2 linked regions of the Homo sapiens genome follow. The protein of the gene in region 2 interacts with the protein of the main gene of each other region in a pairwise test. Each region holds a gene or a part of one and is shown on either strand. Other genes may lie near its edges.

The links. Proteins that work in one complex are often made in the same cells at the same time.
Region 1: the proteins of SLC71A2 (region 2) and SLC66A2 interact in binary tests that used the Homo sapiens proteins (3 or more experiments, as listed by UniProt).

What each region holds. Positions count from the first base shown.
Region 1 is NC_000018.10:79,901,920-79,906,696, forward strand, and holds the end of SLC66A2 (solute carrier family 66 member 2), read right to left. Parts: intron 2,265-4,777; coding exon 2,057-2,264; 3' UTR 501-2,056; downstream 1-500.
Region 2 is NC_000009.12:94,454,526-94,461,542, reverse strand, and holds the end of SLC71A2 (hippocampus abundant transcript-like protein 1), read right to left. Parts: intron 5,304-7,017; coding exon 5,206-5,303; intron 3,222-5,205; coding exon 3,079-3,221; intron 2,383-3,078; coding exon 2,131-2,382; 3' UTR 501-2,130; downstream 1-500.

The sequences.
Region 1 (4,777 bases), on a different chromosome or scaffold from region 2:
TGCCTGGACGTGGCCTGTGCCCTCTCCTAGTACCCAGATGGGCCCTTCAACCCAAATCCTGCCCTGCACCCACACACCTGGTTTTTTACTGGACAAAGAAACATCTTGCCTTCAATGTAAACTGCACAGAAAAAATCGCTATGCACACACAGCTCCATCTGTATGTGCTGCTCCAAGATCGCAAATCTGGAAACACTTCTCTTGGCCTTTACAGGAGACCCTTCCCATGCTCTAAGCCTTCGGTGGTGGGAGGCAGAAGGGCGGATGTGGCCAGGGCAGCTAGAGGCAGTGCCAGACCCGTCTGTGAGGAGCCAAAAGGACCCCCGGGCTGCCGGCCCACAGGCACAGGCCAGTGACAGGTCGAGGGGGCTGGGCTGTTGTTTGGGGCCCTGGAGGAACCCAGGTCACACAGGGGCCTTCTAAGGTGGCCCAGGCTACAAGGGTGTGTCTGGGCAGAGGCCAGGACCACAGCCAGATCCTTCCCTCTGCCCAAGGCCAACTCAGGATCCACAAATGGTTTATTGATTCCAAGTCGCCACACAGGGTACATTCAGCAGTCACTGCGCCTGCAGTCGGCGACAGTTTAATGTGAGGCAATTACCGCTACAGACATCTTGCTTCATCTTAAAAAAATAAAAATTTTCAAAGCATCTCACAGGCCAAAGAGCTAAGCAGGACCCTCACTCAGACATTCAAGAGTGTTTCCGAGGAAAACTCGAGGAGGAGGCAGCGTGGAACATCTTCCCATGGCCACGGCCCCGGCACAGAGCTCAGATGCCTGCGGGAAGCGGCCCCTCCACCTGCGGAAGGGAAGACGATGCCTGTTGGAGCCGCACGGAAGCATCCAGAACTCTGAGGCCTGGGGGCCGGCTGCGGTCAGTGCAAGGCTGCTGACATGGTGTGACCTCTTGCAACGGGGTGGGGGCAGAGCGTGCGGTGACAAGGGTCAGACTGGCGGCTCCCACTGCAGCCAGAAGTGAGGGAGCCAGCACACGGGGGTGGGCAGTGGACAGGACAGGATGCGGCAGGCCCCAGTACCCCCCACTCAGGAATTTGCTTCAGGCCAAAAGCCCAGGGCAGCAGGGTAAGGCGCCATCGGCCAGGACCTGCACGGCAGGGGCAGCCCCCTCCACTCCCTGGACCCGAGACCGTCTCTCCTGGAAGATGGACATCAAAACTGCATCCGGAGGTGCAGTCTGCACCCAGAAGGAAGGGGATCTCCGCCAGCAGAGCCCAAGAGTGGCGTGCAGACTGCATGTGCACAGCCTCAGCCCGGCCCCCTCAGCCATTGCCCATGAGGGCCTCCACGTTGTCTGATGGTCGCTGGCATCTGCCACGTCCCCAAGGACTCGAGGAGAACCAGAGGCTGACAAGAGCAGCATGAGCTAGCCCTGGCGATGCTCAGCCGGGCTGGACACAGCGGATCCACAAGGCGTTCAGGCCTCGCAGCCACTCCAAAGGCCCAGGAAACACCGACTGTCAGAAAACCCGGAGCACGGTGACCCTGCGTCCGCACAGCCGCCTTTCCGTGTGTACCAGGCAGAGAAAGCCCCAGCCCTCCCCCGTGCCAGACCCCTGGGTAGCAGAGGCCACCCCAGTCCAAGCAGGGTGTCTGGCCAGGGTGTCACGGGGTCGAGGGCTCCGCTCACAGGCCTTACAGGGTCTCCTGCGGTCACCCCAGCTTCAAGGTTCGCGGCTGCTGGCCCGTGTGTCCACCTGGAGCAGGTTCCTGCAGGCCGCCCAATGTGTACCTTGGGCTCAGACGGTGTTTCATAAGAGGAAATGGGGAAAACACTTGCTTTTTATGTCATCCTAAAAACATCCAAAACCCTCGGGGCCAGATCAACCCTGGCTGTCCCCGCTGAGCACAAACAGCGTCCCAGCCCCACCCCCACTGCCCACCCTGAGACACCCCACAGAGGCTGATGGAGACCCCAATGCCCATGCCCCATCTCTGCCACACCTGCAGGGGCCACAGCACCCACCCTCCCCGCGGGGAGGTCAGGGCCCACCAGTGCCCGCGGCTGGCGGTCCCACATCCTCGTCCTCCCCACTGTCAGAGGGCCTTGGTGCCAGTGGGGTGCACGGCGTGGGGCGCCGGCTTCTGGGGGTGGCGGGCGAAGGCGTAGGCCTGCCCCAGGATGGCCAGGTCCACCAGCACCTGCAGCAGGCCGCACACGGAGAACTGCAGAGGGGCACCCTTCAGCAGGAAGTAGGCCGTCTTGAAGGCGTCACCACTGGTCCACATGAGCACCATCTTGATGCTGTGGAGACACAAGCAGGCGGTCAGCGGTGGGGAGGGCGGCGACCTGGGCTCAGTCAGTGGGGAGGCCTGGGGCTTAGACAGCGGGGAGACCTGGGGCTCAGGGGCACCCAGGGGGCTAAGGGGACCCCCAGGCAGTCGGCGGGGAGGCCTGGGGCTCAGGGGGCACCCAGGGGGTTGAGGGGACACCCAGTCTACAGGGTGACCCAGGGGTCAGGGACACCCCAGGGGGCCAAAGGACACACCCTGACCCCACCTGTCCCATGCAACCCCCACCCTTGACTTCTCTGTGGCCGCAAGAGCTGCCGCCTGGCTGGGGCTCTGCAAGCCCAAGAACAGTGAGACCAGCTCGAGGCTACAGGGGACAGCAGGGCGAGCAGCTGACGTCAGGGCCCCTGGTGCGCGGTGGCAATTCTGGGAGGGGCCGGGCCTGGGAGGGTGCTGAGGACGCAGATCTGTGCCCCCAGGCACACAGCCAAGTGGAGCAGAGCAGCTGCTTTTGGGTCTCTGCCGGCCTCCCTCCCTGGTGATAGATGCAAACCTTCCTTTCCTGGAGTGAACAGGGAGCAGCCGCCACCCACCATCCCAGTCCGAACACGCTTCCCCCACCGCTGTGTTCATGCCCTGGCTTGCCTAGCAGTGAACATGAGTGCTGCTGCACTTTCCCGTGTGAAATGTTTAAATCAGCGGCCGCTGACCCTTCCACAGCTCCTGAAGCCAGAGGCAGAGCCTGGGTGGGGAGCGCTGCCTGGACAGAAAGGACAGGACACAGCCCTCCCCCACCCTGGGGCGTCCGTCCCGCTCATAAGCCAGGGTGGGCACCTGGGTGCCGTAGCCGCCCTGTGTGAGAGTCTTCAGGCACAGCCATGGCCGGGTGTGTTCAGGGCTGGAGCTAGGAACCCGCAGGAGACAGCCGGCATCTGCACCCCCTCCTCTCTCCCAAGCCCACAGTGCTCGGCTCTAGAGCATCTTGTTGGCCTCTGAGAACATAAATCCGGCTTTATCATTACACCCACTGGGAAAAACCAGGAGGCTTTGGGACTGTTTCCACTTGGGTCGGTTTAGCTAAATTATAAGGCCCTGACCCACAGAGGGCATTTTCCTCCCATTTTTTATTCTCTGGGATGTGTCCTCCCCTGGATGCAGCTCCAGCTCCACAAAATCCAGTCTCTTCCACAGACAAAAAGACAGGGTGGTGCCTGGGTAGCACCGGGGGAAGGTGGTGCAGGCCCCTCGGCCTCTCACACACCCCAGCAGTCAGCCCAGGCTTCGGAATTCCCCCCTGCCTGCTTTAGGCCCAGGCAGGGCTGCACAGCTGACTTGGGGTGGGGCTCCGGGCCTGGGACCACAGCCCCGGTGCAAAGGCGCCTGCCTTTCCTGCGCTAGCCATGCACACAGCAGGCGCCCGAGCATTGCGCGGTGACCCCGCCACCGGTCACCTTCGCCCCACGCAGCTTCCGGTTGACCCCTCACACCAGGATGGGAAACAGAGCTCGCCTGACCCTCACACACGGCTGAGATTTCCCAGGATGTGCTTGCGAACAAGACTCAAGGCCTGAGAGCCACCACCACGCCTGCTTCAGGGACAGGCTACTTCCCACACAAAGCCCGTGGCTTTACTTGGCATGCAGCATCAGCTCACACTTGAGTTTCAACACTTTGTTTCTAATCAGTTGGTAACTCTGTAAACACACACACACCCACACACAGACACAATTTCTGGCTTCTCTGGAAAAAGAGCCTTTTCAGACTTTAGATTATGCATCTACAACTTCCTTCATAGATACGGGTTATCTACTTAAGAGATACTCAAGCTATTTCTTCTTGGGTTAAAGGAATTGGTCCATTTTATCCAAATTTTCAAATGTATGGGCATGAGGTTGTTCATTGTACTCTTTTGATGCCTGTGGGGTCTACAGAATATCCTCTTCCATACCAAATACTGGGGATCTGTGCTTTCTTGTCATTCTGGCCACTGGTTTATCAGTTAATGATTTGTTCCAAAGAACCAGCTTTCAGTTTGGTTTTTTATGTTTGCTGCAGTTTTGTTTTCATTTTTGTTGCTTGGTGTTAGCTCCGTTATTTCCTTCCTTCTGCTGGCTTGGGGTTCCTTTGCATTTCATTTTATAGTTTCTTAAGCTTAGATTGATGATTTGAGAACTTTTTTCTAAAATCAGTATTTAATACTACACATTTAACTCTAAGCATTGCTTTAGTTGCATCCCACAAATTTTGATATGGTGGTGTATTTTTCAGTTCAAAATATTTTCAATAGTTTGCTTTGCAATATCCTCTTTAACAGATTGTTTAAAGGTGTGTTGTTTAGCTTCTAAACCTTTGGAGACTTAAGATCTATTTCTGCTATTAATTTCTAGCTTAATTATATTATATTCATAGAAAATACTTTGCACAATTTCAGTTCTTTTTTAAAAAAATTCTCATGACCCAGGATATGGTCTGTTTGGTGAATGCCCAACGGGCATCTGAAAAGAATGCGCACGTTCACTTGGCTGT
Region 2 (7,017 bases):
GCCACTTAGGTTTTTTTCCATCTTTTGGCTGTTATGAATGCTATGAACGTGGATATACGCGTTTTTGTTCTGTCCCTGCTTTTTAAAAATAAAAATACAGATGGTCTCCAACTTCATGACAGTATAAAAGCGATACCCATTTAGTAGAAACCATACTTCAAATTTTGATTTTTTTTCCCAGGCTGGCGATATGTGGTATGATACTCTCTCGTGACATTGAGCAGTGGCAAGTGAGCTGCAGCTCCCAATCACTATGCACTCAGGAGGGTAAACAACCAACCAATACTCTACTGTGCTGATACCGAAAGTGCTGAAGCTTCTAAGCTGTGTTAATAATGCATTTGCAATGTATGATATTTTCAACTTACAATGGGCTTATCAGGATGGAACCCCATCGGTAAGTCAAGGAGCATCTGTAGTTACGATGTTTTTTTCAAGGAGCATCTGTAGTTACGATGTTTTTGAAGGGAGACTTTGAAGGAATTTTGTTAAAAATAAAATTTTTTTGAAAATACATACCTTTTGCATCAGCTGAAAGATTACAACTCAGTTTAATTGAAAGCCACCCAACAGAGAACCCAAAAGAGCAATACTATTTGCTTTAAAAAAAAGACACAAGACATAAAAGTAACCACTGTAAATTTATTATGCATTAGGAAGCTTAACCTAAAAACCAATAGCATAGTAAAAAGATATGTTATCTCTGTTCATAGCAGAACAGGTTTCAAAATATATTTTCTTTTAAATGTATTCAGTCAGTACACAATCCTTTATAAAAGTTGTATATATTTTTTTCTGTCAATACCTTCATTACATTTATAAATACAAGATTTACACAGCACCCCATCAAAAAAAAAAAATTAAAACCCTTTACAAATATCTACATATATTTCATACCTATAAAACTTTCAAAGGGGTGCTCTGTTAAAGGTGGGCCCTAGTTAATGGTCCATTTACTGGTGCAGCAAAATACATATAAATCTGTAAAGTTTTCTTTGTCCATAAAACATCTCAAAAAATAGCAAGACACTTATCGTGAAACTCAGCTTCATAAAACCTTATTTTAGAAAGGAACTTAATGTGCGTATTCCCATGCGATTCAAAAGTTAAACAGATTGAAATAAAGATGAATTGAAAACAAATGCATACTCAGAGCAGTTAAGGCAGGAGTGTGATGGATGAGAAAAACTTTGAGAAGCAGGACATGGAAGACATGGGAAGAAGCAAATCATAATAATGCCTTTGAGTCTGAACTTGGATATAAACTTCACTCGTATCCAGTTACTAACTCTCATCCTACTTAGGAATTTCCAAATTGTTAATAACTTTCTTAGAAGCAGCCTACAATCTCTATGTTGCCACCAGAATGCTTGAGTTGTTTTTTTCTTCTGTAAAATCACCTTGGACCCAACCAGGACACCAGGTCCAGGAATCTGAGTTGTTGAGTTTTACATGATTTAAGTTTGTAATGAAAATTTCTTTCATCTAGTAAAGGTAATTACTATTCAATATTATTATGTCCAGAAGTGTATATATGCTGAGTTTCATTCTAGCTAAGAATAGAAAGTAGAATAAAAGGAGACTAGGTTTTTATTTGACCTTTGAACAAAGACAGTAGATCCCTGATACTGAGTGACTCTTTAAGAGTGGCCACTCATCAACACCTATGGGCTGATTCAGAGAAACAGGAAGGTAGAAATTAAGAAGAGATTCTTTACCTGAAATCTTGCCAGAGATGGCAGTCCCGCTACTGTTCTGTGCCTTCTGCTGAAAAGGGCATGGAAAGATTGCTGCCACTCTTACTCTATAGTCATTACAGGAAAGCCATCCTTTCTACCAGAGAGATGACTTTTTCTATTTGAGTTTCACCTTGGGAGTTGCACATTATTTGCAAGGAAGTATTTCAAATCTTATCTTGTTCTAATGTATAAACAGGAAAAAAAAAAAGAATGTAAGAGAAAAAAAAAAAACAGGAGGAGGATGAGCAGAATGATGGCGGTGGTATTTATCAAACTTGGCCCTGAAGGATGCCGCTAGCGTCTCCCATCCAGCACCATGAAGTCACCAGGGGTGTGGCTCCCTCCATGGCTCTCAGAGATGGCGTATGCAGAATCCCACTTTCTGCCGAGTTTACAGCTCAGTGCACTGATTCCCAGGCTCCTCAAATGAAGAGAGCTCCCAGATGCTGCTGTCTTGCAGTAGTGGCTCAATGTCCTCATCACTGCCCCGTTCTGGGGTGTTGGTCAGGCTGCCGCTGCTGCTGTTACTGTGTTTTTGAACTCCACTGGCTTTACTGTATTCAGGAATGAATAAGGCAACCAGAAAAGACATAAGGACTATACATGCCCCAAATAAAAACGGCGGGCCTGGGATGACAGCTCCCTGTTGAACGTGGAAAACAAGTGGAGACAAAGAATACAGTTAGTCTTTTAACTCAAAATTATTCCTAGATTACCCAAAAAAAACACACCACCAAAAAGTGAATCATATTCTCATAAGCAAATGTTTCATTAAATGTCAAGGCAAACTCCACTAGAGCTTGGTGTTTGGAATATGACAAAGGGCAACTAATTAACTGCTTTTTGTACCACTTCCAAATAGCTTAAGCAAAACTGTAAGCTTGTAAGCAACAGCTGTTTACCTATAATCCCATCCTATGACTTCAGATCATGCACCTTTGTACATGAACATTAATTCCAGCTTTGTATAGATATGGCTTAGAGGGAACAAGGGAAGAAATTTCAAATAAATAGTACAAAAAGTACCCTACCTCAATTTTTAGCTGGATTTTTAGGTCATTTCAAATTTTAACTAGCCTGGGCTTATCCAGAGAATAGTGTAGTGATTGTGTAGGTGAAAACAGAATCTGAACAAAGTTAAGACATATCTTTTACATAAGATATTAAATCACTAAAATGACCCCTCCCTGATCCCGAGAAGCAATGAACACAATACTTATTGCTGCCAAATAAAATATAGTAACATACAAGAAAGAATGCTCTCCAAATTTAAGGTCACAAGATTTTGCTATAATCATACATAATTGTTGTTACAAAACTAGACTTATGACCAAATTACCTGCAGGGGAACGTTGTTAGAATTCAATTTCGGGCCCAACTCAGTCAGTTCCACATGGAACATGTAGAATATGAAGCCATACAGTGCTGGCCCCAGGCCATTGCATAGTCCTCTTATTCCAGTTATGATCCCCTGGGCAACTCCTAAATCAGAACAAAGAAAATAATGCCAGTCTTCTCAGAAAGGCATCTCAAGATTTGGAGCTGCACAGTACTTTCTCATAACCATGATACACTAATTCGGCAAGACTGAGGAAAAGAGAAAGCATGCTAATGAAAGTAGATTAGGAAGACTTTATCCATTATAAAATAAAATCCAAAACTAATAAAACCATATAAAACATATAAAATCATAAAAACATATACAATCCAAAACTTTAATATCTTCCCATTTCAGGCAATGTCCACTTTTCTGTCAACTGAGATTTCCCTGCTCTGGTCATTTACTGGTGCTTTCACAACAAAAACTTGCCCTTCACCTCTGGCAGCCCTGGTGTCAGGAATACAGACCAGTCCCCAGTAGGCAGACTTCATCTTCACAGGTGTATTCCAGCCTATCTCCCTAGAGACCTACACTGAAAAACCCAGAAGTGCCAAATTCCTAAATATCTCTGCTTTCTAACATAGCAAGTAAAAAGTTAGCTTGAACTGTATGAAATGAATGTTTCTGTAAATCAAAAATGGTAGTATATAATTCAGCCTAATACAATGTGTTCCAAAACTTTTATATGCTGACATTCAGAAACATGTATATTGACATGAATAAGTATAAAAAGTCAAAAGAAAATCCATGCCCCAAATGACAGGACGGTGTCTGTCAGATGCCAAGGCAGTGACAGTCCTCCACGGATGGGTCATCACATCTTCACTTCAGACACAGCACCTCCCTAAGGATGCAAACCAACTGAGTTACTGTAGCCAGGAGTGACATACAGAATGTGTGGTCTTCAAGGGACAATATTTAACAATGAATCTGAGTAAGATACCTAACTTCTGATATAGAAAAAAAAAATGCAATGAATAAACCATCCTTTCCAATATAGTTTTTTACTAAAACTTTTAAAAAAAAGGGCTCTTAGGCATTAAAAAATTTTTCTCCCTCTAAAATTGTCTACTTCTTCCTGAATACAATAAGGTGAGCCATTAGGAGATAGAGAAGGAAAGAGATTAAATCTAGCCATGGGAACTGCTTGAAAGGAAAGCAGTCCAGGCATGGGGGCTCACACCTGTAATCTCAGCACTTTGAGAGGCCGAGGCAGGCAGACTGAACCCAGGAGTTCGAGACCAGGCTGGGCAACATGGCGAAACCCCATCTCCACTAAAAATACAAAAAATTAGCTGGGCATGGTAGTGTGCGTCTCTAGTCCCTGGTACTTGGGAGGGTGACTGGGAGATCACTTGAGCCCAGGAGACGGAGGCTGCAGGGAGCCAAGATTGTACCACTACACTCCAGCCTGGGTGACAGTGAGACCCTGTAAGGGGTAGGAGGTGGGGGGTGGGGGGAGGAAGGGTGGGAAAAGAGGGAAGAAGGGATGGAGGGAGGACAAGACAGGACAGGAAGGGAAGCAGAGGCATGGGAAGGATGGGATATGGATCTAGATGGTAGAATGCTATTTTCCACATAGCAGTCTTAATTTTAATTTCATCTCTCACTCAACATCTATCAACAACCACACAGACTTTTTCTTACTACTCTCAAACTATTTTCTAAATTAAGCTCAAAGACTTTGAGTTATTCCAAATAATTAGTGAATAAAGTAATTAAGTAACTCGTGGTTAACTGGTTTTTCATTATTTAATAGACATCTGTTAAAATGTGATTATAGTCTGCTTAATTGTGACACTAAAGAAGAAAAGATGTATCAAAACTGAAAAGGGAAAATGAATAGTTCTATTTCTAATTGTTAGCAATCTGAACTGCTAAGTCTAGCTTTAAAAAATATAAGTGTAAGATCAAAGCAGAGAGGAAAATAGAATGTTCCTATCTGCCAAAGTAAATAGGTATGATAAAAGGGGCCATATGGCTGTCGGCTCCTGCTGTTGATGGGGAGAACTCAGAGCTGCTCCTGCTTCTAGCAGGGAGGTCTCCCGTTGAAGGAGAAAAACAAGTGGGGGGCAGTGACCTCACCTTGCTGATCTGACTCTGCATTCCGAGAGACGAGGGCACTGATTGCCGGAAACGTGATGCTGGACATGGCAGCCACGGTCCCTGCTGCCCACATCATCCTGCAATGACAGGACAGGCACAGTCAGGCAGCAGGTCAACCTCAAGGAGCTCACTATTCGGAATGCAATCAGTGGCAAAAGTACAAATGCCTTGTTTTCTCCTGTTACATTTTATTTATTTTTTCCTCTTTAAAAATGCATTTTTTTTTTAACCTACAAGGTTACATGTGACACTGGAGGAAACGAATGGCCTAGGATGGGGACAGAAGGGCCAGGAAACCTTTGTGTCTTGATTTTACTTCTTTTACAAACTTTTCTTCTCCCTGGTCTCCCTACTGCTATCTTTAGACATAAGCTCAATGAAGTTCGCAAGGAGATTTCTTTTGTTGCTATAAATACCACATTTTCTCCACTGACCTTTCATTTTTTCTTTGTACCTCTTGAAGGCTCACTTTCACACTGCCCTCGAGCTACAGCTTGCTACCCCTCAACAGAGAGAGCATGGTGTGCCCCCAACTGGAAAAACAGACCTGCCTTCCTCTTTAGACCTTTGTCCTCCTCTCAATAAGAGTCTTAACTATGTATCAGTATGAAGTGTGAGTGAGTAAAGTGAGGCCCCAACTTTGGGATGGTCATTACTGAAAAAGAAAAACCTCACATGATGACAAAGTCTTTTTAACACTACATGAATGTGACTAAATCAGCTACTGAACCAAAGTTCACAGGAGCAAAATCAAAAAGAACAAGGAGAATCAAGCAAGTTAATCTGGTAAAAAGTCACAGACGGCTAGGGACAGTGGCTCATGACTGTAATCCTAGCACTTTGGGAGGCCAAGGCAGGAGGATTGCTTGGGCCCAGGAGTTCAAGACCAGCATGGGCAACATGAGACCTTGTCTTTACAAAAAAAAAAAAAAAAAAAATCAGAATATTAGCCAGGCATGGTGTAAAAAAAAAATCAAAATATTAGCCAGGCGTGGTGGTGCGTGTACATACTCCCAGCTACTCAGGAAGCTGAGATGGGAGGATCGCTTGAGGCTGGCAGCAAGGCTGTAATAGTAAGCCATGATTGTGCCACTGTACTCTGGCCTAGGCAACACAGCCAGACCCTCTCTCTCTCAAAAAAAAAAAAAAAAAAAAAAAAAGGAAAGAGCAAGCGGATCAAATGAAATTCCAAAATTCAGAAGGGGCATATGTACTTACTCCCCAAACTAAACATGATAACTAAGGCAATTCTAGTTTCTCTAAATTATGTTGTCTGTTTGTGTCCAAAGTAAGGACCAGCTCTACCGTCTAAAATGGAGAAGGCATTTCTGCATCTGCCCACCAGGCACATGGAGAAACCTGCCACATTAACAAAACAAAACTCACGATTCCTTCTAATTTTTCTTATTCCACTGAGCTTATTTGGACCTTCCTTCCTGTTTATGGGGGAATCTAATATGGTAGTAATAACTGCGGCAGAATGCACATGGTTTTGGAAGAAATTTTAGTGTTCAAACTCAAATGATTTATCAAGGTTATGTTACTGATAGGTAATGATAAGTCATAGTGAAGCTTGCCATAATCAGTCATTTTTTTTGTATCTTCTTGTTTTGCTTTTGACTATATTCAATGTCTCTAAAAATTAGCATATGTGGCCAGGTGCGGTGGCTCACGCCTGTAATCCCAGCACTTTGGGAGGCCGAGGCAGGCAGATCACAAGGTCAGGAGTTTGAGACCAGCCTGGCCAACATGGTGAAACCCATCTCTACTAAAAATACAAAAATTAGCCGG